Regions from separate parts of the Homo sapiens genome. Here regions 1, 2 and 3 are each linked to region 4. The links come from fine-mapping of genetic effects on gene expression. A gene starts in region 4. Each other region holds a variant in brackets. All regions are shown on one strand. Distances are between the middles of the regions. Region 1 overlaps COL13A1 (collagen type XIII alpha 1 chain). Region 2 overlaps COL13A1 (collagen type XIII alpha 1 chain). Region 3 overlaps COL13A1 (collagen type XIII alpha 1 chain). Region 4 holds the start of COL13A1 (collagen type XIII alpha 1 chain).

The links.
Region 1: its variant is fine-mapped to the expression of COL13A1 in spleen (GTEx, PIP above 0.99).
Region 2: its variant is fine-mapped to the expression of COL13A1 in whole blood (TOPMed, PIP above 0.99).
Region 3: its variant is fine-mapped to the expression of COL13A1 in cerebellum (GTEx, PIP 0.94).

Annotation. Positions count from the first base shown.
Region 1 is chr10:69,863,111-69,870,343 of GRCh38, forward strand. It overlaps COL13A1 (collagen type XIII alpha 1 chain), which reads left to right. Exons shown (of 41, transcript NM_001368882.1): 3 at 4,688-4,695. Among named protein-coding and RNA genes, the nearest start is that of COL13A1, 65 kb to the left of the region's middle. RefSeq lists enhancers at 3,747-4,730, 4,731-5,714. The variant G/A (reference allele first, on the strand shown) is at 3,510.
Region 2 is chr10:69,834,995-69,842,227 of GRCh38, forward strand. All of the region lies in intron 2 of COL13A1 (collagen type XIII alpha 1 chain), which reads left to right. Among named protein-coding and RNA genes, the nearest start is that of COL13A1, 37 kb to the left of the region's middle. The variant G/A (reference allele first, on the strand shown) is at 4,192.
Region 3 is chr10:69,888,634-69,895,866 of GRCh38, forward strand. COL13A1 (collagen type XIII alpha 1 chain) reads left to right here. Exons shown (of 41, transcript NM_001368882.1): 10 at 781-807; 11 at 5,919-5,945; 12 at 6,042-6,068; 13 at 6,917-6,943. Among named protein-coding and RNA genes, the nearest start is that of COL13A1, 90 kb to the left of the region's middle. The variant G/A (reference allele first, on the strand shown) is at 3,473.
Region 4 is chr10:69,799,110-69,806,080 of GRCh38, forward strand. It overlaps COL13A1 (collagen type XIII alpha 1 chain), which reads left to right and starts at 2,797. Exons shown (of 41, transcript NM_001368882.1): 1 at 2,797-3,608. The coding sequence starts at 3,315. LOC124902444 (a long non-coding RNA gene) reads right to left here and starts at 2,662. Exons shown (of 2, transcript XR_007062179.1): 1 at 1,937-2,662; 2 at 754-1,027.

The DNA.
Region 1 (7,233 bases), 64 kb after region 4:
GGTTTCTCATCCTTAGCACGATTCACACGTGGACTAGATGAGTCTCTGTGGCAGGAGGCTCTGTGCATTGTCTTTTCAGCAGCATCCCTGGCCCGTACCCACTACAGACCAGTAGAAACTTCCCAGTCGTGAAATCAAAATGTCTCCAGACATTGTCAACTATCCTCTGGGGAGCCAAATTCCCCCGAGCTGAGAACCCCTGCTCCAGCAGGCAGAGTGTAACCAATATCATTAGTCACCCAAGGTCTGAGGGGAGCCCGTGATGCACAGCACCTGTCCTGGCAGAGATGGGTGGGTCGGGCATGTGGCAGAGCTGGTGGCAGGTGGTCAGCTGCAGGCACCAGGAGGCATGGGTGGGGGCTAGGACCCCAGCTTCTAGGAGCCCAGCGGTCAAGCAGGGTCAGAAGATGGTTCAGATGACACTGAACTTGGGAGCACCCTGCCACTCTTGATGCCCCCTGTCCAGGACCAGGACTGGATCCAGCGACTGGGTGGCACCAAGTCCAGGGTCGAGGGGGAGGGGACTTACCTGACCACTTTAGAAGGGGCTGAGGGCCCAGCCGCCCCTTCCACCCCTGAGAACTTCATGACCTCCAGCCAGGAGAACACAGGCTTTGCAGCAAGAGAGACCAAATTCAAATCCAGGCCCTACCATATGGAAATAAAAGTTAAACAATCAACTTAAGCCAGGCATGGTGACTCATGTGTATAATCCCAGCACTTTGGGAGCCCGAGGCAGGCAGATAGCTTGAGCTCAGGAGTTTGAGACCAGCCTGGGCAACATAGTGAAACTCCATCCTTACAAAAAATACAGAAATTAGCCAGGTGTGGTGTGTGGTCTCAGCTACTCGGGAGGCTGAGGTGGGAAGATTGCCTGAGCCCAGGGAGGCTGAGGCTGTAGTGAGCCGTGATTGCACCACTGTACTCCAGCCTGGGCAACGGAGTGAGATACTATCTCAAAAAATAATAATAAATTAAATTAAATTAAATTAAAATTTTTTAACCTTAAGAATCAGATGCCATCATCTAAGAGCAAGGTGACCACCTTAGGCAGGTTGCTTAACCTCTAAGCCTCAGGTTCCAAGTCTATGGAAGGGGTGATAATGCCAACTTCACAAGGTTGTTATAAAGACAAAGTGCGGTGTTATAGTTACCATGCTTAGCACTGTGTCTATGTCTGCCGCATAATGAGCACTCAGTAAATGTCGATTGAATGAATGAAGGAATGAAAAAATGAATCCTCCTACAGCAAACCTTTCTCCCTTAAACCCTCATGTTTGTTTTAGTTCTCATCACTGGAATTTCTCCAGCTTTCTAACATAGGAAACTGTTGGCTTCTCAGCGGGAGGAAATGAGTTATTCATCTCTGTATCATCAGAGCTTTGCATCAGGCCTGGTAGATAATAAATGCTTAAAAAAATGAAGTTTTCCTTCCTCAGAGGACAATGAGTATACTTTATTCATCTTTAGAGAGCCACAGCCCAGCACAGTGACTCACACAGTAGGCATTGTTAAGTGTTTGTTGAATGAACGAACATACAAAAAGTGGTTGAAAAAGGGCACGACCCAGAATGCTACCCCAGAATTCTTCATGGGGGTCCATCCCTATGTGTCCATTTTGGGGAAGCATGGCCGCCTTGCTCGGAAGAGGTGGGTCAAACCCCGGCGGAGAACGGTAGTGGCCTCAGCAGGAAGCTGAGGCAGTGCGTGACAGACATCAGCAGGGAGGTCTCAGGCAGAATGTCCCCACCCTGGATGGCTGTTGTGACCCTCTCCTGACAGCCCTGCTTGCGGGCTGCTTAGCCCACCTGAGGGGGCTGGGACAATCTTCATAGTTCTCCCTGCTGCAAGAAACAGGTTCCTCCTGAGGAAGCAGCAGGTGCATGGGCGGAGTCCAGGTGTCTTCCTCCTCTCTCAAAATGTGGTAGTACGGGCAGTACCTCAGCAGGATCAGCATGAGATATGGTGTGCTCTGTTAGGAAGACCCCAGGATGGGGAGTCAGGAGACTGAATGCCGGTCTCACCGCCATCACCTGCCCACAACATGGCCCTGGATGGTCATGAATCTCCCTGGGCCTCTCTCTCTCCATCTGTACTGTGGGGACTTGGTAATGCCTTGGAGTGACTCCATCCTTTGGTGCCTGGCCAGGGTAATGGGCACAGCCAAGTGGCCCACATGGGAGAGCAACTAGTGACATCAAGGCACTGCTAGATTTTGCAAAGCCATCAGCTCCCCAGCATCTTAGAGCTGCCAGGCATTGAACACAGCATCAGGGGAAGCATCTGCTTGGAAACCCAGGGCTGTCCCAATGCAGGCCTGTTTGATGAAAATTGGCAGGGGCAGGACGGGAGTTGGGTTTTCCAAGGCACCTGAAGATTTTCCAGTGGGTCTCATGAAGACCATCCCTAACAGGGGAAAAAAGGTGTGTGAGAGAGAAAGTCTTCTTTTATAGCACCTGTATAGCTCTTCCCCTTCTATGGCACAGCATTAGCTCACAAAGAGGATTTTCCTGTTTCTGAAATCCCTGTAGGGGACAGGTATGGGTAGTGGCAGCCTGGCTGAGCTTGGAAGAGCCAAATTCCCTTGCATAAGACAAAGGTGCCTGTAAAAGACAGATGAGAGGGTTGAGTCTAGAGAAGGGGGCTGGAGGCTGACCATAACAGGCATCCCAGGGGCAGGTCTGGAGAGGACTTGGTCTGCAGGCAATTGCAGGGTGGGGGGTAGGTTGCTTTCTGAATGAGAGACAGAGAGAGAGGCACTGTAGAGAAGGGTCCAGAGCTCTACCATTTACTAGCTGCATGGCCCTGGGGAGTCGCTCAACCTTCCCATGCCTCAGTTTCTTCATCCGCAAGGCGGGAATGATAGAACCTATTGCATAATGGAAAACCCCTCGAATTGTGCCTGGCACCTAATAAGGACCATAGAGGTGTATGCAGTGACAATGGTGGTGGCAGTGGTGGTGATGTAAAAACCCTCAAAATCTTCAGTAGAATTTATATCCTCCAGGGGTGCACCCAGCAAACTGCTCCTCCTGCTACCCAGCTGAGCCTTGAGTCTTGTGCCAGCTACCTGGCTGCATCTGGTGACACCTATGCAGCCGAGAGTGCTAACAACAGGCCGGGCTGCCCTCAGAGCTCCAGTCTGTGTCACTGGGGACATCTCAGAGCTCTAGCCTGTGTCACTGGGGGCATCACCAGAGCCTGCCACAGTGGGAGCCAGGGCCCCGTCAGGCCTGGCAGGCGCAAGGCATCTGCCCTCCATGTGGCTGAAGCATCCCAAAATTGCCACAGGCTGAATTTTGTCACCAGCCTGCTTCTCATGCAGAGGACATCTCCCCCAGCCAGGAGGCACAGATTTCCCAGCTAAGCTGGCCCCTCTGGCAGGCTGCGCTCAGGGGATATTTTCAGATTCTGGGTGACATTCCTCTGCCACTCAGCCTAATGGCTCCCAGATGCTCCCCCTGCTCTGTGCTCCCTCCCGCTTGTTCTGGGCCCTGCATGCAAGGCCC[G/A]GGCCTGGGGCTTGCTCACCCAGGCTCTACACCTCTTGACTTTTTCTGTTGCTTTTAATCTAAAACACTGTGTTCCTCCTTAACGTGATGGCTTGACAGAGGCCAGCATGAAAGAGGCTGTTTCCTCCTGGATGGTGACCAGGGCAGAGAAGCCGACAGATAAAGGAGGAGAGAAGGAAGCCGGCTCTGGGAATGGGAGGAGCACGGGGAAACATAGGAGCCTTTATTGGCCGAGCATAAAAGAAGCAACAGGAGTCGCAGCTGAGTTAACGTGGCCAGGGCACTAGGGGCCGGGCAGACACACCAGGCCCAGCTGGGAATCACCGGGAGGGTGGGGTTTCGTGGCTCATGTTCCGCAGAAGCGCCTTTCCTTCCCTATCTTTCTGGGACTGCTTTTCTAAACCTTCCCTCCCGCTCCCCACCCCTATTCCTTTTTTCTCCCTCTCGGAACACTTGAATTTGTCATTCTTGGCTGTTGCCAGTAATGAGATAGGGCTGCTGCTGCGGCCGTGGGAGGGAGGTGGGGAGTGGACACCAGAAAGAGAAAGGAACAGAGAGAGGCATGGAGGAGGGTGGGGCCGGAGCCCGAGAGGGGGCTTTGAGAAAGAGGCTGTGGGTGGCAGACCCTGGAGGGGTGAAGTGCCTAACTCACTGCTAAACAGAAACCAGGACGGGCCAATGGGCCTCAGGCAGGGTGCACAGTGGCCATCCACGCCCGCCCCTGCCTGCCTGCTGGCCCTCCCTGACGTGCACAGTGAGGACACGGGCATGCTAACGGTCCTCATCTCTACGGGATCTGTTATTTCCGCCTTTCTCAGTGTGCCTCGCTGCCCACTGTCCCGTGTTCTGCAAAGCAGCCTTGTACACAAGTTCAGGCAGGTCCCGTAGAGCCCGTTTTGTGGGGTGGGAAACTGAGGCAGAAGGGCCACCGGCAGGTCCCCAGCAGGGCTGAGCCTGGGGCCTAGACCTCTGGATTTCTCATCCAATTATGAAAATATGGAGATGAAATAAAGGGGGAAGAGATTATATTGGTGAAAGTAGGCCAGGAAAAGACAAACTTCGAAGACCAGATGGAAACCCCTCCGCTGATGAATCCTTGGACACTGCTTCCAAGGCGGCCTCCCCACCGCCCCCTACAGCAATGACACTGACCCAGGCATTTTCTCTCTCTCTTTCAGGACCTCCTGTAAGTACTCAAGCCGAGGGTCTCGTGCATCTGAAAGGCCTGTGTCACCTGCTGGTAACGGGGTTCTGGGTGGGGGCACTGAAAGCTGGGCCCCTGCTGTCTTGTTGGGGGCCTATGCAGGCTCCTGAGGGGTCCCTCCAGAATGCCTCTTGTGGGGAGGAGGCTACCATTTTGCTTTTCACCCACTTCTGCACCCCTCCAGGGCAAGACAATGGCTGCCCCCAGGGCAAAGCAGGCCCCAAATTTCAATATGAAAGAGTGGCTTTCCCTCTAATTAGCTCAGTTCCTTTGTCCCCAAAGAAGCTATTGGAGTCAAAAAAAAAAAAAAAAAAAAGCACCAGGTATTAGAAGAAAAGAAATCATCTCTCCTCAGTTCTGCCCCTTGAAAGGTCCCAGAAAACAGGTCATCGAGCTGGCTGCAAGCATGGTCTGCTCCAGGGGACTCACATCCACACCCCTGAGTGGGGCAGCTCCATTCTGGCCACTTTGGGCAGGTGGTGGTGGTGGCGGCGGCAATGGTTATGTAAGAGAGAGCGGTGTCAGCCGGTTAGACTGGGAGACAGCACATAAATTATAGGCATCATGCCGCACTCCTTCCTGGCCTTGCTAGGAAGCCCAGGGTGGGGCAGGGAGTGGAGCCACTTCCAGAGAACCTGAGAAGAGCCCAAGGAGACTGCCTCCCTCAAGTAATGGATCCAGAGAACAGGAGCACCTGCCTTTGATATCCCAACAAAAGACCAGAGGGCGCTGGGGGAGCTGGAGATAGGAATTGAAAGGGCCCAGCCCTCGCATCAGATCTTTCTCAAGGTTGCTGAAATCAACCCTATCATCATCCCTTCCTTGGAGAAGTCATTTCCATAGTTGTTTTCCTCTTGATGTGTACCTGTGGGAGCCGCCTGCTTCATTTTTAGTAAAGGCCATTATCGAAGACTCCATTTGTGCCCTGAAAGGCCCTTGCACCCACACTGAGGATCCCATGGCCCCTGACACATCACAGTGAGGCAGGACCTGTCATGTCATTACTTGAAAGGAAGGATAATGTATTATGGCACGTTTGGTGTGTCAGATCTTAATTCCTATCATCCATCTTCCAAAATAAACTCTGCCATATAGAGCTTTCACCTGTGGGAAATGTGCTGCTTTTCCCTGTCTCATTCTGAGGAAGCCACAAGAGCCCTCAACTGCCCCCACCCTGCCTTGGGGCCTCCTGCACACACCTCACCCCCAGGGGCAGGATGCTGCAGCCTCCTGCACACACCTCACCCCCAGGGCCAGGATGCCAGGACAGCTCTGAGTCCCTGCCTGACTTGAGGGTCCTTTCCTCAGTAGGAATTTTGCATTCTGAGAGCTTGTGCTGGCCCGACCCAGGGACTGTTCCCAGACCCCTTTGGGTCTGTGCTGAAGGAGCCCATGAGGTGGAGGGGATGAGTCTTCACTCAGTCTCTGCCCACAGAGTGAAGAAGAAAGGCCCAGGTAGCTTTCCCCACATTCTGAGCCCAGCTCAGAAGAGGAGCCCTGAACCTTTGCCCAGTGCTGGCTGAAACCACAAGGCAGGAGGAGGAGGAAATGGGAAGCTGGCCAGGGCAGGAATCACCTCCTCAGCCCTGTTATCTCTGCTTCCTGCAAAAGAAGAATGCTGGTGGCCAGAGAGAGGGGCTCTGAGATGCCTGTCTGATGCCGTCTGGGTGTATCCTGGGGGCTGGCTCTGTCCTCCAACAGGAAGACCCAGATTTCTGCGGGCACAAGGTCGGCCAGTGCCTGAAGAACATAACTGTGCAGGATGGATTAAAGCTGCAGCAGGAACCATTTAGGTGGAAGTAAATTTTCAGCTACCACTGCCCCACCCATCATGCCCCTGGCAGACATTGCTAATCAATTAGGAGGCTTTTTAACATAATGCATTAGTCAGTTACTCCCAATCCATTGGCATCAGTGCTCAAGCTGACATCTATTGGCCATCCCTGGATTCAATTTAAGGGAGAATTTCCTAATACTGGGAACTATGAGACTGAAAACAGATGACCAAGGGAAGTAGGGATGTATCTTTCTCTGAAGGAATATAGGGAAATATTTGCCAGCAGCTGCCAGGCCTTGCTGAATATGATCCTTGCTGAAATAGTAGCTAACACTTACTGTGTGTTAGACACTGTTATGTTTTTATGGAGGCAGTGTAACATAGTGATTATGAGCATGGGCTCTGGGGCCAGACCAACTGCAATCAAATCCTGGCACTGCCACTTTTTGCTGTGTAACCTTAGCAAGTCACTTAACCTCTCTCTGCCTCAGTCCCCTCATCTGTAAAATTAGAACAGTAATGGTGTCTGCTTCATATGGATGTTGTAAGGTATATGTGTGTATGTGTGTGTACTGTATATATATATTTTTTTTACTTAGGATATATTAATTCATTTAATCCTAAAAGCATAAGGCTTCCCTAGATGATGCCCAAAGGTGTTTTGCAAACCTTTAATTTTTTTTTCTTTTTTAGAAAAGAAAAGAAAAAACTTTTTTGGGTGAGAGAGTGAGAGGCAGGGTCTC
Region 2 (7,233 bases), 36 kb after region 4:
GGAGTGCATCTTGCTGGAGAGCTGGCTAGAAGCACTGAGGTGGGAGACTTTCTGCCCCAGGACATGCCCAGAGCCCAGGGCCCTGTGCCCCTTCACCCAGGACTCACAATCCTGCCCGCAGCACACATGGGTGCTGTGCAGCTTGTCCCAGGCTGCTGGGGGCAGATGAGCTCCCTGCCCTAGACCCAGTGGAGGGTCCCTTGATCTTGCCACCACCTGCTCTGCCCTGAAGGAGAAGGTTCTGCCACAGTGACGCTAAAGGAATGCCAGATGCTCCTTTGGAGGAAAGGAGCAGCAAGTGGGAAGAGCCCGCGACCTCTGCTTGGGCAGTTATAAGAGACTAGAAGGTGGGACATGCCAGACCCATGGATGCAGTCCCTGGCTCTTCCTCCTGGACCCACCCAGGCTGCCCACTCCCTCGATGACTACCCCCACTCTTGTCATAACCCAGCCAGCCTCTCCCCTGTTACTCCCTGGCAAGTTCCTGTTCAGCCACTAAGGCGACTTGGGTGGCCTCTGCTGGCAGTGGCACTCTTGTCCCCACACACCTGGCCCTCTTCACTGCACCCTCCCACCAGCTCTCCAGGTTACGACTCACACTGCCCTATTCTCCTGATGAGGACCCTGAAGCTCAGAATTCTTTGCTCGAGGATACAGGGTTAGGCAGTGGCAGGGTTGGGACTGGAAATAAGCTCTGAAACATCAGAAGGCAAATGCCCCCCAGGGACCCAAGTGCTACCCTGGAGCACAGTGGGAAACCGAGGACTCGGCAGTGGCCGTGATGCTTGTCCAGGGAGCATGGAGTCAGATAAGGCTGGAGGACATTAATTAGTAATGATAACAACAACATCTATTAAGGGCTTACTCTGCGCCTGGCACTGTGATAAGCACTTTATTGCATTGTCTCATTTGATCCTCATAATTACTTTATGTGGCAGGTACTATTATTATCTCCATTTCCATAGAAGACTGGGGCCCAAAGAAGTTCTGTAACGGGGCCAAGGCCACAGAGCTAGTGTGTGTTGAAGCCAGAATTTAAGTAGTCTGAGTCTGGGCAAACCAGAGCAGCATCAGAAGCTCCCCCTGCCAACCTCTAGCTATCTCTCTCTCTCACTCCCTCACTCCCCACCAAACAGTTTTTGAGCACTGGTTCTGTGCCATGCCCCATCCTCAGGAGACAGAGAAGAGCCCACAGTCCAGGAAGGGGAAACACACGGGTAACTCAGTGGCTGCTGCAGAGACCCAGGGCTCCGGTGGGGCTAGGCGGTGCCCAGTGTGGGCTACAGTCCCAGGGCCGCATCCTCCAGGATTCCAGCCCTGGGAGGCCGGCCCCAATCAAGGCGGGGCCAAGGCAGGGACACAGGTCTAGAACCACACTGTTGGTGGCTTGTGCAGCTGGCATTTGGCCCTGAGACATCAGATCTGGGACTCAGAAGGGACCCCAGAGCTCAGCTGACTCGGCTTCCTGGTGAGAGGCCCTCCTACCATGCAAAGGGGAGCTGGCTATGCACATATAAGCAGGGGAGGGAGGGGAGGGTCAGAGCTCCAGCTGCTCATTCTCTTTCCAGCTCACTTCACAAACTCACTTCCTCCCACCCCTCCAGCCTTTGCCATCTGTCTGTGTGGCAGGTACACCAGGCAGGGCACTGTTGGAATGTCTCCAGTAGGCAAGGTGTGTGGCTGACAAGAGCTGGAGATGGGCAAACCTGGGGCACACAGAGCTACATCCTTGGCAGGCTGGCTCCTCAGCCTCATGGAGACCCTGGGGAGCCTCCTGGAGCTAGAATGAGGACCAAGTATGGGCAGAGGCTCCCTCAGTGCCTGCCTTCCTCTTTAAACCCCAACTGGGGAGGAAATGCCTGCCACAGAAAGATGCCCAGCAGGCGGTGGGGGTATAAGTGGATGCCAGCTTCCCATGTAGTTATGTGAGCTGTCACGGGGTGACCTGGCATACCATGACAGGCCGGAGGGAGGGTGGGGCGGGTCCCAACCTCCCAGGGGCAGCAGGTACTGGGCAGCTGTGCCGTGTGTTCCCGAGACCTGCCTGTTTGTGGTCATGGAGGGGTCTCCATGCCAGGGCTCCGGCTCCAGGGTGCCCAGGGCCCAAGAGCTTTGACAGCCTGAATGTCCTCTTCATTTTCCTATAGGCTTAGAACCTGGATGTGAGTCCTTCTCAACAAAGAACTTACTTTCCCTCGGGGTGTTCGGGAATCTGGACAATGAGGCCCCATCAGCATCCCATGGGGGACCTTACCAATGATCCTGGCTGGTGTCGGTTCTGATTGGTGGGTCTCTGTACGGTTCTAGTTCCAAATGCTTGACCACATCAGCTCCAGCTGTATCATTCTTTGCTCATTGGCACTCAGAGGCACTGGTGTGTCAGCCAATGCCACAGACTCCTGACGCCTTCTGAGGCCAAGAGCTACAGCCAAGCTGGGCACCTGGTTCCGGATTCATCTGTCCATTAGACAGCCTGTCCTTCCTGACAGGTGACACCCCTGCTGTTCATTAAAAGACAGCAAAAGATGCTGCCACAGAAACTGATTGGACCCTGAAGCCACCACCCACCACACAACTATTTCTAGGGATGAAGTCAGATCCAGCCTCTTCTGCGCTTACCCTGGTACATTTTCCCACTGCCTCTTCTCCTCACTTCTGTGGAGGGTGGCAGAATCCCTGGGGAGCTGGAAGTGGGCCTTGACCCTCCTGCTTCATCATCCTCCATGTTGTCCCCCTTGTGGAGTGGCCCCTTAAGGCAGTGGGATCATGTTCCCGTGGAACGGCGATCCTGCCAAATAAATAAATAAACGCAGAGAAGAAGACAGATTTCATTATCCAAAGGAAGCTGAAGCTGGGGCCAATTTCTGATGTTCATTTTAGTGGCACTGTAGTGGGGCTGGATGTTCCTCAGAGCATTTGCCCACCTTAAAAGCCCCCTGTGATGTGACGAGCCACTTTCTCAATCTTGGGAAGCTCCAAGATCTCCCAGCCCTTCTCCAGTGCTGTGGCCATCCTGGTCTTGTCACCCAGTGAACACAGGAGGCCAGGGCCCTGTGGGTTGGTCACCCCTGGACATTCCACCCACAGTGCCTTGGGCAGGGCAAGGTCTGCGCCTGCTCCAAGGCATCCAGGCAGCCCCCTCCTCAAGGGGCCACAGGAGACAGCAGCAGCCACAGCCTTGTGCCTTCCCGGTCCCACTTGTGTCAAAGCTATACAGGCCTAGACAGGATCTGGTAGGAGCCTGGGCTTTAGAGACAGAGCCTAAGGCCGAGAGAAGGCAAGGGGTTCTTCTAGGGTCACCCAGCCAATGCTGGAAACACCTAGACTAACAAAGTGGCAGGATTATCTGCTGGCTGAGTTCTGGGATCCAACTGTGTTACAATGGGCAAGTGACTTGACATCTCTGAGCTGCAGCTTTCTTACCTCTAAGATAGGGATCATGACAACCTCTACCTCCATGCTGTCCTGAGATGAAGGAGATGTATGTAAAGCACGTGGTACAGTACCTGGCATGGGGAGGAGTTTAATCAGTGGTATTGAGCTGCTGGTACTCAGCTCTCCTGAACCGCAGGCCAGGACTCTCTTGACCACCCACATTGCCCTTCCTCCTGAGCCTCTGAAACACCACTACCTTGGGGACCGGCCCTTGCCAGAGGAATTTATTCAGACAGGGGCTCCTCTAAGCTGCTTTTTGACTGCAGCAAATGCTGCTACCTCCACTAAGCCCCTGCTGTATACAGAGCGCCAGGCATGCAGGTATATACAGGCCTTTGTACAAAGGGTTCAGATCCACCTTGGGAAATGGGGTGAGGCGTGGCTTCTGTGCACACTGTGTGGCCCTGAGTCTCTGGGCCTCAGCTCCCATTTTGTAAAATGAGCCTGAGACAGCCTCACTGAGTAGCTTGGCGAAGCCAGTGAGTTCCTGCGTGTGAAGCCCCATTGAAAGTGCGAAGTGGATTGCTATTTGCTACACACGTGCCAGTTGTTATTTTTGCATTTACACAATAATGGACAAGACCTGACCCTGTCTCTAGAAACCCATCCCCTGATTGGGCCTCTGAACAGTGTCCACAGGAAATATTTCACCAGTTATATCCTGCAATCTGGATGTGTCAGCTATGGTATTTGGAGAATGCGATGGTCTTGGAAGCCTCCAGGGGAGAGGTGACCCATTCATTCATTCATTCGTTC[G/A]TTCGTTCGTTCAACAAATACTTGTGAAGCGCTTGCCATGTGCAGTGGCACCGAGCTCTAGTGATATGAGGACCAACCTGACAGAGGTCTTGACCTCTTCCTGCTTCCAGTGTAATGAGAGAAATCAACAAAATAAGCACATAAGGAAATTAACAAGAAAATATCCACTGATTGTTATGAAGAAAATAAATTAAGACAATTTTAAAGGATTCCCCCCACGGCCCACTTTACTGAGGTATAATTGACAATTAAAAACTGTATATATTTAAGGCTGACCATGTGATCCAGGGGATATTTTCGATAGGGCATTGTGGGGGGCAGTGTTATCTGTGAGAAGGTGACATCTGAATGACAAGGGGAGCCCACCACGCAGAGCTAACAGATGATCCTGAGCATGAGAAGTGCTGTGCCTGAACTTGTCACAGCATAAAGCACTAGAAGAGTGTCCATGAGATAAATTGATTAAAGAATTAAATCAGAGGTTGGGGAATGAGCATGCTGGTTAGCAGCAAAAGCCGGTGCAAAATCCCTGAGGTCGGAATGAGCTTGGTGTGTCTGAAGAAGAGAAAGGTCAGAGTGTGGCCAGGTGAAATGAGTGACAGGGAGAGAGCAGAGAGAGAGCTCAGGGAGGGCGCGGGCCAGTCCTGTGGCGCCTCGTGTGACTCTGGCCTGTGGTATTTGTACATTTCACCCTCAATGAGCCAGGAAGCCACAGGAAGGTTTTAGGAGGGGGAGCCACCGGCTCTGGGCTACATTTTCCAGTCCTCTTGGCACCGGCAGAGAATGGATTACAAAGGCAGAGTGGAGAGGAGCCAATAGGTGTCCTGGACAATTGCGGTGTCCAGGTGAGAGGCAGTGGTGACAGAGGAAATGGGGAGAGTGTGCAGATTTTGGGTATGTGCTAGAGGTGACGCTAGCAGGCCTTGCTGATGGGCTGGCTGTCGGGTGAGAGATGGAGAGAAACCAGGCAGAGCTGAAGGCTTCTTGACTTGAGCTGTTGACTGGGCTGGGCTGTGAAGCTGCTGGAGCTGCAGAATGCTTAGCCCAGGTGCTGGGGGTCAGGGGCAGGTTTCCTGGAGAGATGGGGACAGGGCTGGAGGGACAGACAGCGGCATCGAAGGAGCCCGGTGACTCGGTGACTCGGGGTCCTTTAAGTTGCGTGTCCCCCAGCGTGGAGTCCACTTGCTAGAGTGAGCAGTTTGTTGAATTGCTGGTTCCCCTTCCACTTCACCAGCTTAGGAGCAAGAGGGGCTGGATGGAGGAGGCAGAGCCTGTGGCCTGTCTGCCTGGCTGAGGGGGGCCCTCTGGAGTCAGATGTCCTGAGTTCCCCTCCCCACCTCAGCAGCTTCACAGTGCATTTCCTTGCTCACTAAATCCTGAAATACTGGGATGATGGGGCCCCCTTTGAAACTTGAGTGAGGTAAGTTTAGGACAAATTAAAGGAAGTCCTGCTTCTCACAGCAACTTAGGACCTCAGGGGACTCATTACCCTGAGAGGTGGTCCAGGCTGGGAATGTCATGGGATTCCTGAGGGATCTGGGTAAAAGAACAAAATGAGGGGCCCTCAAAGGCCCCTGAGAGGAAACCTGGGATCTGTGTGACCTTTAAGTTGACGTCAGGGAGGAAAACTGGTCTCTTGAGGCTTCTGCTGGCAACAGAGTCGGGAACCATCCTAATCCAACCCAGCGTTCCCCTGCCCCCTGGCTCTCAGAACCCCGGGCGCCAGAGCTGGAAGGGGCCCCAGGCTCTGCCCCATCTAGTCCTTTTCTGTCACTCAGGAGGACACTCCTCTGTCACCCCTCCGCCTGAAACCCTGCAGTGGCGCCAGTGCCTTCACGACCATGTCCAGCACACCCCATCGGGCCCCATCCCTCCCCACTGCCCCCCTGCCCCACTTCCCTGGACTCCCTGCAGCACAGCCAGCCTGGGGCTTAGGAGCAGGGCTCTCATCACCAGGCCTCTGCCCCTGCTCTTCCCTCTGCCAGGAACCCCCTCATCTCCACCTTTGCCTGTTAACTCTCCCTTACCCTTCCGATTTGGCCTTAGTTGTAAACTCCTAGATAGCCATCCCTGATTCCCACCCCTGCCCCCACCTCCCCAATTTCAGGTCACCTGCCACTGCCGAAAGCTTCCTTAGAGCCAGCCCAGCCTCCAAGCATAAACCTATCCCACTGCATCATCAGGGACTAGTTTCACATCTGTCTCCCCTCTGGACAGTTAGCTCTGTGTCTTCCCAGCACCTGGCACGGAATAAATGCTCTTCAATAATCATTTAAGGTGTCAGGCTCAGAGAATGGAATTGCCATGCACAAAATCACAGCATCATTCATGTATCATTCAACACATATTACTGAGCACTCACTCCATGCCATGCCTTTGCTAGGTGCTGGTAACCCGAGGGTGAGCAAGACATGACTTACGGTTCAGTCAGGGAGGCAGCCTCCACCAATTGCCCCAGCAAATATAAAATTGCAATAGCGATCAGCTCCACCAAAAGGCAATGCAAGGTTTCATGAGAAACTAGAAAAAAAATCCTCAAGCGTCCTTGAGCAGAGAGATCTGGCAAGGGAGTAGGAATTGACCAGGTAAAGGGCAGGGAAAGTGTTCCAGGCAAGGGAACAGCAAGGGCAGAGACCCTGCAGTGGGAAGGGAGGATGAGGAACTGAGGCAGGAGCAGTGTGGCCTGGGCAGGGAGCTTCGGGACAGAGACTGGTATGAGATGAGATTCAGCTGGAATATGCAGGGCTTTATGGACCACGTTAAGGCTTTCATCTTTATCCTAAGAGCAGTGGGGAGCCACCAAAAAGTATTGAGCAGGACCATGACCTAACCAGACTGGTATTATGAAAGCTCAGACTAGCTGATATGGTTTCACTGTGTCCCCACTCAAATCTCATCTTGAATTGTAGCTCCCATAATTCCCACGTGTTGTGAGAGGGACCTGGTGGGAGATGATTGACTCATGGGGGTGGTTTCCCCCATACTGCTCTCGTGGTAATGAATAAGTCTCGTGAGATCTGAAGCTTTCATAAGGGGAAACCC
Region 3 (7,233 bases), 90 kb after region 4:
GTACGGAGGTCAAATAGCTGGTCTGAAGAGCCTGGCCACTCATGCACACGCTTGCCCCTGCTCCCCAGCACCTGTGTCTCCCATGGCCCTGTCCTCGAGGTCAGGGTCTCCCTCCCCGATTGAGACCCCACACGTGTGCTCAAGTCCACGTGGAGACTGCTTCCCACCATAGCTCCTCTCTTCGTTCATTTCAATCCTTTGGACTTGGTTCCCTGACACAAATGTTCATGGGAGAAAGGAGTCCCCTCCCCAGTCCTAGGAGCAAGTCAGCTGGAAGGGAGCATGACCCATCCAAAGCCCTCAGGGTGGACGGAATGCAGCCCCACTCACAGCCATGCCTGGCCCCGCCACTCGCCTCTCTCAGTTGAGGGACCCTAGCACCACCCAGTTACTCCCCAACTGCAGGCCAGCGAGCTAAGTGCAGCCCAGGGGTGCCAGCAATCATTTCCACTCATGTCACGGGACCAGGCATCCCCCGAAGCTACCCTGGACATGTGAATGGCATGAGCGTTGGGGTCTAGGGAGACTACCCCCACCCCTGCTCTCTGAAGGGCAGGCAGCTGCTAGTGAGGCCCAGCGAGGGGCAGTGAGCAAATGACCTTGCCTTAGGGACTGGGTGAAGGAGTGCACAAGCCAGAAGGTGCAGATGGAGCACAGGGGACAGGGAGGAGCACGGGGGGCAGGGAGGAGCACAGGGGGCAGGGAGGAGCATGAAGGACAGAGGGTGGAACTTCTGGGCTGCGAACAGTGCACCTGGTACTCACCCTCTTCTCCTTCCAGGGCCACCCAGGACCAAAGGGCGACATGGTAAGAGCCCAGCTTTCCTGCCTTCCCGAGATGGGTGGGGGTTGGCCCAGCCTCACAGGCACAGCCAAGCACTGCAAAGTGGGTCCCACAGGGACAACAGGAATGGCTGTCCATGCTGGTCACTCCCCAGCTGTGTAAACCACATGCCCTGGATCCTCACATCAATATGCAGGGAGGAGAAATGGGCAGGGGCTTCTCCATCTGAAGCATGAGGATGGGAGATCCAGAGAGAGTGCACACCTGGCTGGTAGCACACAGAGGTCGGTGTCCAGCTTACTGCTCTCAAACCACACTCGCATGGGCCTTGGGAGACAAGGTTTCATCTGCACTCACAGGGGACACTTTCTCTAGGAGACACCATTTCTACTGAGCCTGAGGTCCCTCAAGGCCTCATAACCCCTTCCGGGTGCTGGCTGTGCCCTGAGCCACCCCAGGACTCCAGGGGTTCCTGCCCCACTGGGGCTGGTGGTGCCCAGTGGATCATCTCAGCTGGGGGTGCCACATGCATCATCCCAAAGGCCCCTTCCCCTCTCCCTTCCTGGGAGTTTCTGTTTGGAGGTTGGGCCACTTGGCAAGTCAGGAGCAGGAGCAAGGTCTTCTCTTCCATGTCACAGCATCCCGCGGCCACCACCCAGATGGATCTGCCCAGGGTACCTGGAGTGCCTCAGGCCCCAAAAAGGTGGAGAGACAACATTTGGCCCAGCTTTCTCCTGGCCCCTACCTTCTGCAGAGCTTTGGAAATAAATTTTCTGTCTCCACAGACCATCCCTTCCAGAAGGGAATGAGGGGCTGCGCACTCTCACGGTGGGCCAGATCTCAGCAGGGACTGATGGGCCATTAAGAGCTAATGGGCCCCTGCTCCCACACTGTGGAGTGTATTTTGGTTTTCAATAAATCCCTGCTTTAAAAAAACAAACAAACAGACAGACAAACAAAACAGCCCTGGGCTGGGGTGCATTTCTGCCTCCTAAGATCCAGGTCGCACCTACTGTGAGGGACCACCTCCTGCTCCACAGGTTGGTGGGCCAGGAATTTGTGCAGGGTGGTGAAAGCAACGCAGCAGGCTCCCCCTGTCCCTGTTCAGTGGGGGCCTGGCTCATGCCTTGCTCCAAGCGCTGGTGTGAAGACAACCCTTGACCCATGACTGGGGCACTGCCAGGGCATGGAGGGAGGCAGGTAATCATGTGGGTGGAAAGGGGGATGGTGGAGTGTTGGCTGCAAGGCCTGGGCTCCAGCCTAGCTCTTCCTAACTTGCCAGCTCCCTCTGGGCCCCAACCTGTCCTCTTGACTCAGATCCAACTAATATTTATTGAGGGTTTGCCACGTGGTTGGCACTGGGCTAAGCACTTTGCATGACTGTCTCAATCCTCAGCGTAACTCTGTGCTCCAGGTCTTGCTAGAATCCCCTTTGACAGGTGTGGAAACCAAGGCTCAGAGAGTCTAACTAACTTGCCTGAAGTCACACAGCTGAATGTCCAAAACAAGATCGAAACACAGTTCTCAAATTCCTTCCCTCCCTTTTTTTATTAAGGTTTTATTACCTTCCTCCCTTTCTGTTTCCCTCACTCTTTGTCAGCCTTCCTGCCACCTTCCTTCTTTTAATGCATTTTTTATGGAGTATCTAAAATGTGCTGGGCACTGCTTCAGGTGCTAGGGATACAGACGGGAGCAAGAGAGAGACTGTTCTTGCCATCTGTAGCTCACAGTCTAGTAGGGAGACATCCTTTTAAATGATCACTCACATAACTAACAAGTTGCTTTGCAATGAGTGCTATAAAAAGATAATCCTTAGTGCCCTGGAAATCTTGGTATAACAAAAACCTCACCCAGGCCAAAGGTCGGAGACGGCTTTTCTGAGAAAGAGACTTTTGAACTAGTGCCTGAAGAATGAGCATTCAACCGAGAGAAAATAGAAAGGGGGATGGGAATGTGCTTTCTGGACATGGGAGAATAGCACGTGCAAAGGTCCTGAGGTAGGAAAATCCTTGACATGTCTGCAGAACCGGAGGAAGGGCACTGGAGGCAGAAGGCCCTGGAGGCAGTGGCAGAAGAGCTGGCGCTGGAATCCAGGTTCCCCAGCAAGGTTTCCTCTCCATCACAGCTGCCTCCGCTGCAAATGCATTTCCCCCCGCCCCTACCCCATTCCCAGGCATGCTGTGCACATGCATGGAGTAGTGGAGACCGAGGCAGGAAGAAACTGCCATGCCACATTGTTATAGAGGCATAAAGGGCTTGGGGTGCTCATCCCTTCAGCCTGAGCTTCTTTCCCTCTCTGGCAGCCTTATGCTACCGTAAGGCAGCCCATGGCCCCCCAGAAGTAATAATAATGGTCATCCTCTAGGCAGCACTCTGTCATCCTCATAACAGCTTATCATCCCCACTTCATGAGAGGGGAAATTGAGGCACAGAGTGGCTAAGTACATTGCCTGAGGCCACAAAGCTCCTAAATACAACAGCTGAGATTCAGACCCATGCAGTGGAGTCTTACCCCTCGATCACACCTCCTCTCAGCAGCCAGCACTTTGTCCTGGAGGAAAGGGACCCTTCCATGGGGCCGCTTTTCCTGCCCTCATTCTGCCACACCGTCCCTCTGCCCCACACACTTGACCGCCTGTCCAGGGATCAGAGCTAACTCAACAGAAAAGGCAGGCCCACCCCCTCTCTC[G/A]TGAGCCCACATCAGTGGGATAGATCCCCTGTCTGCCTCATCAAATCCAGCAGGCCACAGAGCATCTGATTCCTGTTTGGCTTGGCATGGGTACCCGAGCTGTTAGTTGCCCACCGCTGTCCAGCATCATTACCTTGCCCTGCTCTTCATCTGTCTGTCTCCTGCCCCAGATGCTGTCCCCTCCACTGGCGTCCCACTGGGGCACTGGCACTCACCCTCATTGTTTAACCTGTGTCCTCACCTCTCAAAAGGGAGTCACCTCTGCCCCACCCCCCCACTTCACATTATTCCCAAGAACCTGAAATAAGGTGTTGAAGTGTTGGGAGGACACAGTTGTATAATAGTGTAGTTGGGGGGTGGACAAGATTGGGGGTCTGAGACTCAGGAATGACATAAGGGCTGTAAAGCAAGGCCTGGACTGAGTCCAAATCTCACCCACCACCCACAGGGCTGTCGAGTGAGGAGCGCCAGGCACTCAGAACATGCTTGGCACCCGAGAAGCAGACAGGCGCCTTAGCTATGCCTCAGTGGCGGTTAGCACAGGCCTGCTGGCAAGTGCTAAGCACATCACCGGTGGCCATGGCCCTTAAAGGGGCAGGTGCTGCCTGGCTGAAGATAACTGGTACCATGTGTTGTTGGACCTCGACATAATTAAGAGAAACTTGAAATCCAAATTTTTATTTGCACTCTGCTTGCTCTCTTAAGTATTGGCAACTAGTTGAAATAAAACCATGTGGGACAAACAAAATCCCTATGAAGACCACGATTGTCCCCTGGGCCACCGTTTGGGATGTCTGGTTTCAATTGTCCAAGTCTCTGCAGTCCTGAAACTCCGCCTGCCCCTCCCCCATCACACTTATATCTCTGTCCTGACAGAGGATGACCTGGTCACCTGTGGTCTGGGCCCGGGTTCCCTGCCGGATGAATCATGTGCTGCAGAACTTCATTCTAAGCACTCTGCCAGGCCGAGCGCGGTGGCTCACACCTGTAATCCCAGAACTCTGGGAGGCCAGCACGGGCAGATTGCTTGAGTCTGGGAGTTTGAGAGCAGCCTGGGCAACATGGCAAAACCCTGTCTCTACAAAAAAATGCAAGAGTTAGCCAAGCACGGTAGTGTGTGCCTGTAGACCTAGCTATTTGTGAGGCAGAGGTGGGAGGACTGCCTGAACCCAGGAGGCAGAGGCTGCAGTGAGCGGAGATCACACCACTGTACTCCATTCTGGACAACAGAGCGAGACCCTGTCTCAATAAAACAATAAAAGACCAATAAACACTTGGCCAGCCACATGGGCTGGGAGTGCCACATGGATGGTCCCAAAGGCCACTTCTCCCTTCCAGTGATGCTCTTGGGAGTTTCCCAGTTTGGAGGTGGCCCTGTTGGCAAGCGGGGAGCAGGAACAAGGCTCTGGCACATCACAGCATGCTGCGGCCACCTCCCAGATGGACCCACCCTTGGGGATCTGCAGTGCTTCAGGCCCCAAAGAGACTGGTGGCTCAAAGGGACCTGCTTATGGCTCTAGCCAAGTCTAGAAGCCCTGACTCCCAAGGTCTGGCCCAGTTCTGAGCATTTGGCAGTGGAAACAGCTGGACCTTGGCCGTCAGACAAACCTGGGCTCCTGTCCCAGTGCCACCTTTCACTGAGCCATGGGGCCTTGTCTCTGTCACCTCACTCGGGAGCTGGAGTGGACACAAGCATCTCCCTCACAGACACATACCTGAAGAGCCAGCCTCAGGGTGGATCCTCAGCCCATAAGGCATTTGTTTTCTCCTCTTCCCTCCACCAGCCTTGGTGCAGCCTCCTAAGAGAGCCAGAGCATGCGGGGCCCTCCCCAGACAGCAAGGGTCCCTCCCAACCCCAGCTCCTTTCCTAGCCCTGCATGGACAAGACAACCTTGAAGGAAACTTCAAGACCCCTCATATTCCTTGGAGAAGTCCAGAACATGGCTTCAGTTGCCAACTTCCTGCTTTCTCTCTTTTGCTGAAGGTTTCTCTAAGGCCCCCATTGTCTGAGGCACCGGCCCAGCACCCCCAGGCCAGAAGTTCTTCTGGTTCAGTGGGCTTCACTGCAGCCTGGGAGGCAGGAGGTGGAATGTGCTAGTGTCTCCCAGAGGCTTGATGCATGTGAGGTAGGGGGTCCCATGGAGCAGAAAACTCCCTGACCTCTAGGTAGAGCCCCTCCATAGCTGGCCCATGAGATGCTGGTGGTTGGAGGAATGGATGAAAGATGCCATCTGTTCTTCATCACAGCCCTAGTCCTGCCCACTGGGGGGTGAAGCAGCTGAGACTCTGTGAATAAGACATCTTGAATGTGGTGGGCATGGGAAGACCTGGCCATGGCTGGTAGAGCCCAGCCTTCGGGATTCAGCCCCAATCCCCACCCAGGCAGGTGTCCCTGATTGCCTGTCTTCTGTCTGCCCACTGACCTGTGTGTGTTTGCTTCCCACAGGGTCTGACGGGTCCCCCAGGACAGCCGGTTGGTACCTCATCCATCTATTTCCCAGCAGAGAAGCTTCCGGTGGCTGTGACCTTAGCTTTGGTTTCTAACTCTCTCATCTCCGTCTCTTTGTAGGGACCCCAGGGACAAAAAGGAGAAAAGGTAAGAGCAGTGGAGGTTTCCTAGAGTCTCCATCTCAGGAAATGGCCTCCCAGTTGGTAGAAAGGGGTCAATTATGGTTATTTTCAAACTTCAGTTTTAATTGACAGAACCAGGAAAGCCCCCGAGGTGCCGCATAATAGATTCGGTTGACACCGCTCCAGGGGACATCCTTTTCTTGGAGTGAGGGGTCCTCCTGGAGGCTGGTCCGGGTGACATCCTTTCCAGGGGTCCTCCTGGAGCCTGGCCCTCTTCAGCCTCTTTCTGGGCCCCTCCCAGCTGTCACTCCATGGTGTTCCCTGACACCTCCATGAGCCTCTGGGATTCTGAGAGGCATCAACCTGTAAACCACTGGCCTGGCCTCCTGCCCTCTCTGTCTTGTTGAATTTCTGATAGAGACACTGCTGTGCTTGCCCTTGGGCCGCTGGTACAGGGGCCTGGCGCTCCCAGCTCAGAGAAGGTGGCTTGGGACCCCCATGGTGCCGGCTGCTCCCATCCGGTGGCTCCTGTTCAGGGCTGTCTGGTGGGCCTGCCTAGAGGGTCAACCTTTCGCCAGGCATGGGGCATAACTCCCGACTCTGCCATTATGGCAAGTGGTATAAGGCGAAGCCCCACCCCTAGGCTCCCTGGGGCCACTTCCAGGCAGGCCATGGAAGTTTCTTCCCTGCTGCTAGCCAGGGGCAAGGGAGGGACTTAGTTCTTCTGCCTCAGAGGGCTCAGACCAAAACTAGAGCAGGAGGGCTGGTGAGCGGTGACATGTGTGGCATGTCCTGAAGTGCTGGGGGTGCCCTGAGAAACAGGTACCCCCAACAAGTGCCTAACACCACCTTTCCCTTCCCTCTCCTTCCCAGGGTCAGTGTGGAGAGTACCCACACCGGGTAAGTGAACCCCTAAAATTTAGCAGGGCACTTTGATCCATCCCTGGGGCACAGCGCCCAGCTCAGCCTCATCTCCCTGGGGTCTCCAGTTACTAACAGATCATGGGGGAGCAGGAGCACCCACTGCCCTCTGCACTCAGCAGTCAGAGAGGGGAGCTTGGGATGGTGGTGCGTCTGGTGGGAACAGCTGATGTGTCTCTCCAGCCATGTGCTATATGGAGCCGCTCATCACCCGTGCGTGTCTGTACATCCGCCCCTTTGTACGTACGTCTGACTCGGTATGTTGGAGT
Region 4 (6,971 bases):
GCTGTATGCCTGGGGCATTTTTTCTTCATTTTTGTCTAGGTGTGTAACCAAGACCACAGTTTAAAATCAAAGTCTTTGGGTTAGCATTGGAGGCCCTCTTTCTTCTTACTGCAAACAAGAAAATCTATTTCCTGGTGTTTTTCTTGAGGCATCTGAATCCCCCCCCTTTCTTCTGGGAGCCCTGAAGCACCTTTTGTGGTCTTTACATGTTTTGTGGATTTTCGCTATTCTGCCTTTTGTGGCGGTTTTATGTGAACATGACTTGTCTTCCTTAATCAACTGTTTTTAAAGCTCCTGGAAGGCACTCTTTTCACCTCAGTGTCCCCAGGTCCTGGCCCCCACCTATGAAGAAAGAAGGGTTCAAGATAAGCCACATGAGGCTGTAACTTGTGCCTGGGGTAGACAATGCTCTACCTGAAAGAAAAATCTCCCAGGGCAAGAATTCTAAGCAGTGTGGGAAGAAGAAGAGGGATACCTGGGGATCAGGCCCCTCAACACAAGCTAACTCCTGCTGCTCACAAGCTGCTACTCTCAGCTGTCAGGTAGGGAAAAAATGGAGGTTAACTGTGATCCATTTGCTTTCTCTGGGATGGAAACTTCTTCCTGTTTCACAACTGGGAGCCCAGAGCTAGCTGTGTCTGAGATGGCCCTAGCAGCCATGAATTCCAAAGAAGGAGCCGATGCCCTTTATTGAGTGCCTGCCCTGTGCCAGCACTGTGTTCACTGCTTTACATACATTACCTCATTCAGTCCTTCCAGACGGGTAGATACTTTTATTATCAGCCCATCTTACAAATGAGAAAACTGAGCCTCCGAGATGTTCAGCAGCTTCCACATTGACAAAAGGGAGATTTACACCCAGGTTTCTCTGACTCCAGAGTCCCCCTGGAAGCTCCAGGGTTTGCAATGCTGGGGCCAGGTCAGGCTAGCGCAACACCCTCCTCTTTCAGTTCCCAATCACAAGGATGCTCCAGCTCCAAACTGTTTAGATTTCACTGCCTGAGCATTCCTGAGGGCCTCCAAAGTCCTGAAAGGGAAAAGATCAGTTTGCAGAATAAGGAGGGAATGAAACTAACTCCCCACCTCAGTTCCTCCATTCAGACTAGCCTGGGAGGGGAGTGGGGGAAGTCCAAAGTCCCTGAATTTCCTGGCCTGTACCTCCCAGTGCAGAAACTCTCCAACGCCCCCTGGTGTTCTTCAATACCATCCAAGTCTCCCAAGGATTCATTCCTCTGTAGAGTGGACTGGGACATCCCATCACAGGGATGGAGAAAACAGAGTGCCCTTGCCACTGAAGCCATCAGGAGAATCCTAGAACTGGAACTGGAACCCAGAGCTCCTGGCCACGGGCTCTTTCAGCAGCATCGCCTTCTATTCCTGTTGTCCTCCATAGTGGCTGACTGGCCCAGCAGTCAATGTTACCTTTATTACATATGATCTCAGTACTTACTATGTTACAAGTCCAATATGCACTATTAAGTGTGCCACACTTTATTAGAAGTGCAGTGACACTGTATTATATATCAAGTTCCATCAGGTCAATATAGAAAATGGGAAGTTTGTACTGGCATGCCTTGTTATTTTGAAATGGAATCCCAGCACCACTGCTGCCCCCACCTCCACTGCATATTTGAAAACCCAGTCTACTCTCCTCTGCCCGCTGTTCCAGGAAGACAGGCTTTCTCCCAAAAACTCAGTCCCACCACCTCATTCACAGGAATGTCAACAGGCACAAGGAGATAAAGTCTCTTGGGATACAAATGCTACTTAATGTGGGGGGTGGAGGAGGTGACAAGAGAAGAGAGAAAACTACCAAATGCCCTTCAGGCCACCAGTTTTTCTCTAGTGGAATATAGGAAATGACAACAGGAGAGAGCCTGGTTAGCCCTAAGCCTCCCGCAGGGATGGAACCTGAGTTTGTGTAGGAATTGCTCACCTTTGATGACTGGGATGATTGAGGCAGGCTGGTCTCACCACACAGGGATAGATGGCATGGGTCTCAGATTAATGGCAGGCAAGAAGGGGAGATGTCAGGACTGGCAGGCGGCCCCAATGAGCCACCTCTCAGATACCTGGAATAAGATCTCCTCCGTTTTCAGTGTCTCATACTACCTCAGGTCTTGGTCCTGAGAGGAAGGGCTGCCAGCTCTGCTGCCCCCTGGAGGGCTGACTTTTCACCCCAGAGTAAAGATGTGGTTGGCCGCCCGGCACTGGAGGAGCTGCAGATCTCAGGAGGTACAGAGCCCCCGGGGAGTCGGTTGTCGGGGGAGAAGGAAGGGGAAAGAGGTTGGGGGCTTGGGAGTAGAGGAGCGGTGGCTGAAGGGATCAGGTAGTCCTGATCAGGACGTGGAGATCCACCCACAAGCCCTGACAATAACTCAGTCGAGTTCCTGGAGGGTCTCAAGGGCTGGGAAAGGTGGAGTGGTGCCTGCCCCAACGCGTCCATGGAAGGTGGTGCCCGCCTCACCGCCTCCGTGGAAGGCCAAACGAGCCCTCGGTGTGAATCCGGAGAAAGAGAGGGAAGTGCAGCGCCAGCTCCACTCCACACCCCCTTCCTGCCTATAAATAACCCCAAGTGTCACTTCAAAGAGGACGGGGAGCGCGGCAGAGGGGCTCCCGGGCCGGCGGGCTGGGGCCGCCGGACCTGCTCACCACGCCCCCCACCCTGGGCGAGTTTGCATAAATAAACAAATCCAAGCCGTCGGCCCCGCGGGAGGTGGAGGAGGAGTGACGAGGAGGAGGAGGAGGAGGGAGGGGGGAGGGAGAGATTAGTTTGGGAAGTAGCACGGATTGCTCATCCGATCCGTGCCGCCGCAGGGAGTGTGTCAAGTTACAGAGGCGCCGGAATCGGCCCCTGCGCTCCTCGCCAGCCGCCACGACCCACCTCTGCCCATGGGGCCCTCCGTGTGCGCCCCTTCGCCCGGGGACTGAAACTGACTGGCCCGGGAGACACGAGGCGCCCAGAAGGACTGACAGCGCGGCACCAACTGCTCTGCAGACACTTGAAGGGAAAGACTGGGCGGAGAGAAGGAGAGCCGGTCAGATTCCCCTAACTTTCCTGGACTTGGAACGTTCTTCGAAATAACTTTTTTCTCACCTAGGTGTACCCCAATTACCGCTGGTTGTGCTTTTTCGGCACTTCCTCTCCTACTGCTAATTTTTCCGTCCTCTTTGCCGGGAGCAGCGGAAAGGGACGTTTTCCAGCGATACAAGCCCTTTCCCCCTGCCCCGCAGTTTGGATAGAGCCTTTTGGCAGCGGCTGTCGCCTTTATTTATTCTATTTATTTATTTATTGGTTCTCAAGACGCGAGAGGATGGTAGCGGAGCGCACCCACAAAGCGGCAGCCACCGGTGCCCGCGGCCCTGGGGAGTTGGGCGCGCCCGGGACGGTGGCTCTGGTGGCGGCGCGGGCGGAGCGCGGCGCACGGCTGCCGAGTCCAGGGTCGTGCGGGCTGCTGACGCTGGCCCTCTGCTCGCTGGCACTCAGCCTGCTCGCCCACTTTCGGACGGCCGAGCTGCAGGCCCGGGTGCTGCGCCTGGAAGCGGAGCGCGGGGAGCAGCAAATGGAGACGGCTATTTTGGGACGAGTCAATCAACTGCTGGACGAGGTCTGTGCTCTTTGTTGCTGGCTTTTATCCCTCCCCGCGGCGCCCCCTCGCGCAGCCTCCAGACTGTTCAGCCGGTGTCCGCGGGCGCTCGCTCTCTGCGAGCCCCAGGTTCGCGCGAGTTGCCTGCGGGAGGGGTCGGGGACACGGACAGACGCTGCCCTACCAGGGATTCGGAGGACCTGGTGGGCAAGAGCATGACCCAGCGACTCCCGCCTCGGGCAAGCGCCCCCGGCTTCCAGCGCTGGGAGCGCCCTGGGCACGCCGGGCAGGTGGAGGAAGGCTGGGCGCGCGGAGGCTCGCGGAGGCGGGCAAGCTCCACTCCTCCCTTTCGGGACCCGGCCAGGGTGGTGTGACAGCCGCCCCGCGCCCGCGCAGCGGCAAGCGCGCCCAGAGGCCCAGGCCGAGGCTTACTGAGCCCCCATGGCCCTCCCCCTCCACCCCTTAAGGACCCGGGGGGTGCGGGGAGAGGGGACAGTTCTTGCAGGGGGTGGTGCCCTGGTCTCTGCTCACTGGCCCAGGCCGCTAGGGTCCAAGTGTGGGTCGCCTGGCTCTGCTGTCCTTGGCCACAAATTAGTCCACACCTTCTTTTTCCTAAACCAGGTTTCTTATTTTTCTGGAGAAAGGATGCTTTCTTCCATTCTCCAAATTTTTTTGATCCAAGTAGATTAAACACTACTAGCGTGTCAGGTAGCTATGGCAATCTTCGGAATACAGGAAAAGGCTGTCCCCTCCCCAGGAAGGAGGGACATGCAGCCTCTTTGTGCCACCAGAGGAAAGGCTGGGCCTTGACAGGGTGAGGCTTGATGATCTGTGGGAATCTGGACAGCACAGGGGATTCAGGGCCCAGATAGAGAGGAGGACAGGCAGGTGGGGGCCGCAGCAGTCTGGGAAGAGGTCCTGGAGCAGGTCCTGGCCATGGAAGGTCCTGGCCATGGAAGGTTTCCATGGGGAAGAAATGGGAGAGGATATCTTACTTAGCTGGAGGGAGTGTGCAGCAGTAAAGATCACGGTGGTAGAGGCCAGCAACCCTGGGTTTTTATCCCCACTCTGCTACTTGGAAGCTTGGGACAAACGCTCCAACCCCTCTGAACATGCGAAACAGTGCTGATGTAGCAAACACTGGAGCACAGCTCTAACTGTGGTGGGTGGGGTGCTGTGAGCATTTTGGCAAGATGTACCTATTCCCTATAGCCAGGCTCTTCTCAGCTGCCCCTGCCAGGCTGGCACCTGCTGGAGCAGTTCTCCAGGGTGGCCAAGGAGGAGATTGCAGGGCCAGAGCAGAGAGAGCGGTCACAGGGCAAGCGTACTGGTGCTAGTGGTGCACCCATGACTGCTGCTGTCAGCTCATTCCCACGCCCTGCCAGGCTCCAGGGAATCCGGAGAACTCCATCGGGCCGTCCATGGTTCCCTGGGCCTGGGGTGGAGGTGCAGCATCTCTGGGCTCAGGCAGAATGAGCCCAGACTGGCTGGGTGGTGAAGAAGGTGTCAGGGCAGTGAGAGCTCCTCCAGGTATCTCGGGGGTCCTGGCTGCTGAGGGATAAGCATCTGATTTTCAGGGTTTAGCACAGCCCCTCTCTCCATGCTTTCCCCTTCCCAGACCTTCCTGCTGGCCTGACCATGCCCTGGCCTTTTCTAGCTTCTTGCTTCCACTGCTTCAGACTTAGACATGCCAAGTCGCATACTCTAGGGGCCTTGGGGCTAACTATTGTATCCGACATGCTCACTCCTTCCCTCCAAGCTGCAGCTCCATATTTACCCTACTGAATACAATCTTTTCAACTGCTAGATATGAAAGTTATCCCAGAGAGCATCTGAACTGAACCCCATTTTTCAGATGGGGAAGTTGAGCCCAGAGTCACATGGCGAGGCCCAGGACTAGAACCTCAGCCTCCTGGCCCTGTATACAATGTTCTTTGCGCTGTATCCTGCCACCTTTTTTTTTTTTTGGCCTATTCTCATTCATTCATTCAGAAAATGTTTACTGAGAGCCTGCTGCGGGTCAGGCATTGTGGGAGACACTTTTGCCCTCCTAAACTTACATACAGGGAAGTAGTGCACAAAGAAGAAAATGGGCAGTGACCATGTCGTGTGCAAAAAAAAAAAAAAAAAAAAAAAAAAAAAAAAAGCTACAATAGTGAAAAAAGAGAGGGGCCTGGGGAATGCATTACATGCAACATTGTCTGATGGTGGTGGCAGTCATGGCAGGCTTCCTTAGGGAAATGATTTTCAAATGAAGAGCTGAAGGATGAATAGGAGTTTGCCAGGCAAAAGCGGGCGAGTGTGAAGCCTTGTTCTAAGGGGACAAACGGAACAGCCTTTGAGGCTGGGGGCCAGAGGGAATTGGGAGAACTGGGGGAAGTCCAGGACCCCGGAGGACTGGGAGTGTGAGGAAGTAGGAGATGTGGCTGGAGAGAGACGGGCAGCCCAGGTCAAGAGGGGCCTTAGAGAAAGTTAGATCTAAATAAGAGTAATGGGGAGCCATTGAAGGGTTTTCAGGAAGGCAGTTATGCCCCTAGAGTGAGTGCTTACGGCTGGCAAAGCAGTAAGGCCAAAAACAGAAGGCTGCTGCAGGCCAGAGGGGACAATGAATGGGGGTAAAAGTAGGGTCAGAGAGGGGTGACTGGAAATGGTGGCTGAGGTCAATAGGGGAAGATGCTGGAGCCAGAGGAAGGGAGCTGTCCCACAGGTGGATGGCGTGAGTGGCCTTATCTGTGGGGGCCTTGTCTGTGCTCCTGGAGGGACACCCTAGGGTTGGGCTGTCCAATACAGTAACTGCTAGTCATATGCAACTCATTATATTTAAACTAACTAAAATTAAATAAAATTTAAATTTTAGCTTGTCTGTTGCAACAGCCTGGTTTCAAGTGCTCAGTGGACACTGCAGCTAGGGACTATGGAGCTGGACAGTAGAGAGAAAGAACTTGTACATCCTCGCAGAAAGTTCTATTGGCCAGCGCTGTGCTACGAGCAGCTTCTGGGCCTGCAAAGCAACTTGAGGGGACCATCCTGGGCCTTTCCCTGTGTAGGTGTGTTCTCCCAGGTCTGAGCAAAGGTCTGAGCAAAGGGCAGAGGAGAGCAATGGGTAAGGCAGAAAATTGGGACAGGCAAAAACCTGCCACAGGACAGGAGAATTCAGAGACAAGAGAGGGGAAATGGTTTTGTTACAAAACAATTCTCCAAAATGGAGGTGCAGAAGGTCCCTGTCCTCATGGGGCACACACAGGCATCTGGTGAGTTTGGAGGCCAAGACCAGGATTCTAGCTGGGCTTTGCCAGTCTTGTGGCCTTAGGCAAGCCATGCTACACCCCTGCACTTCAGGTTCATCTTCCATTAAATCTAGGCCCTGCCTCCCTCCTGGGATTG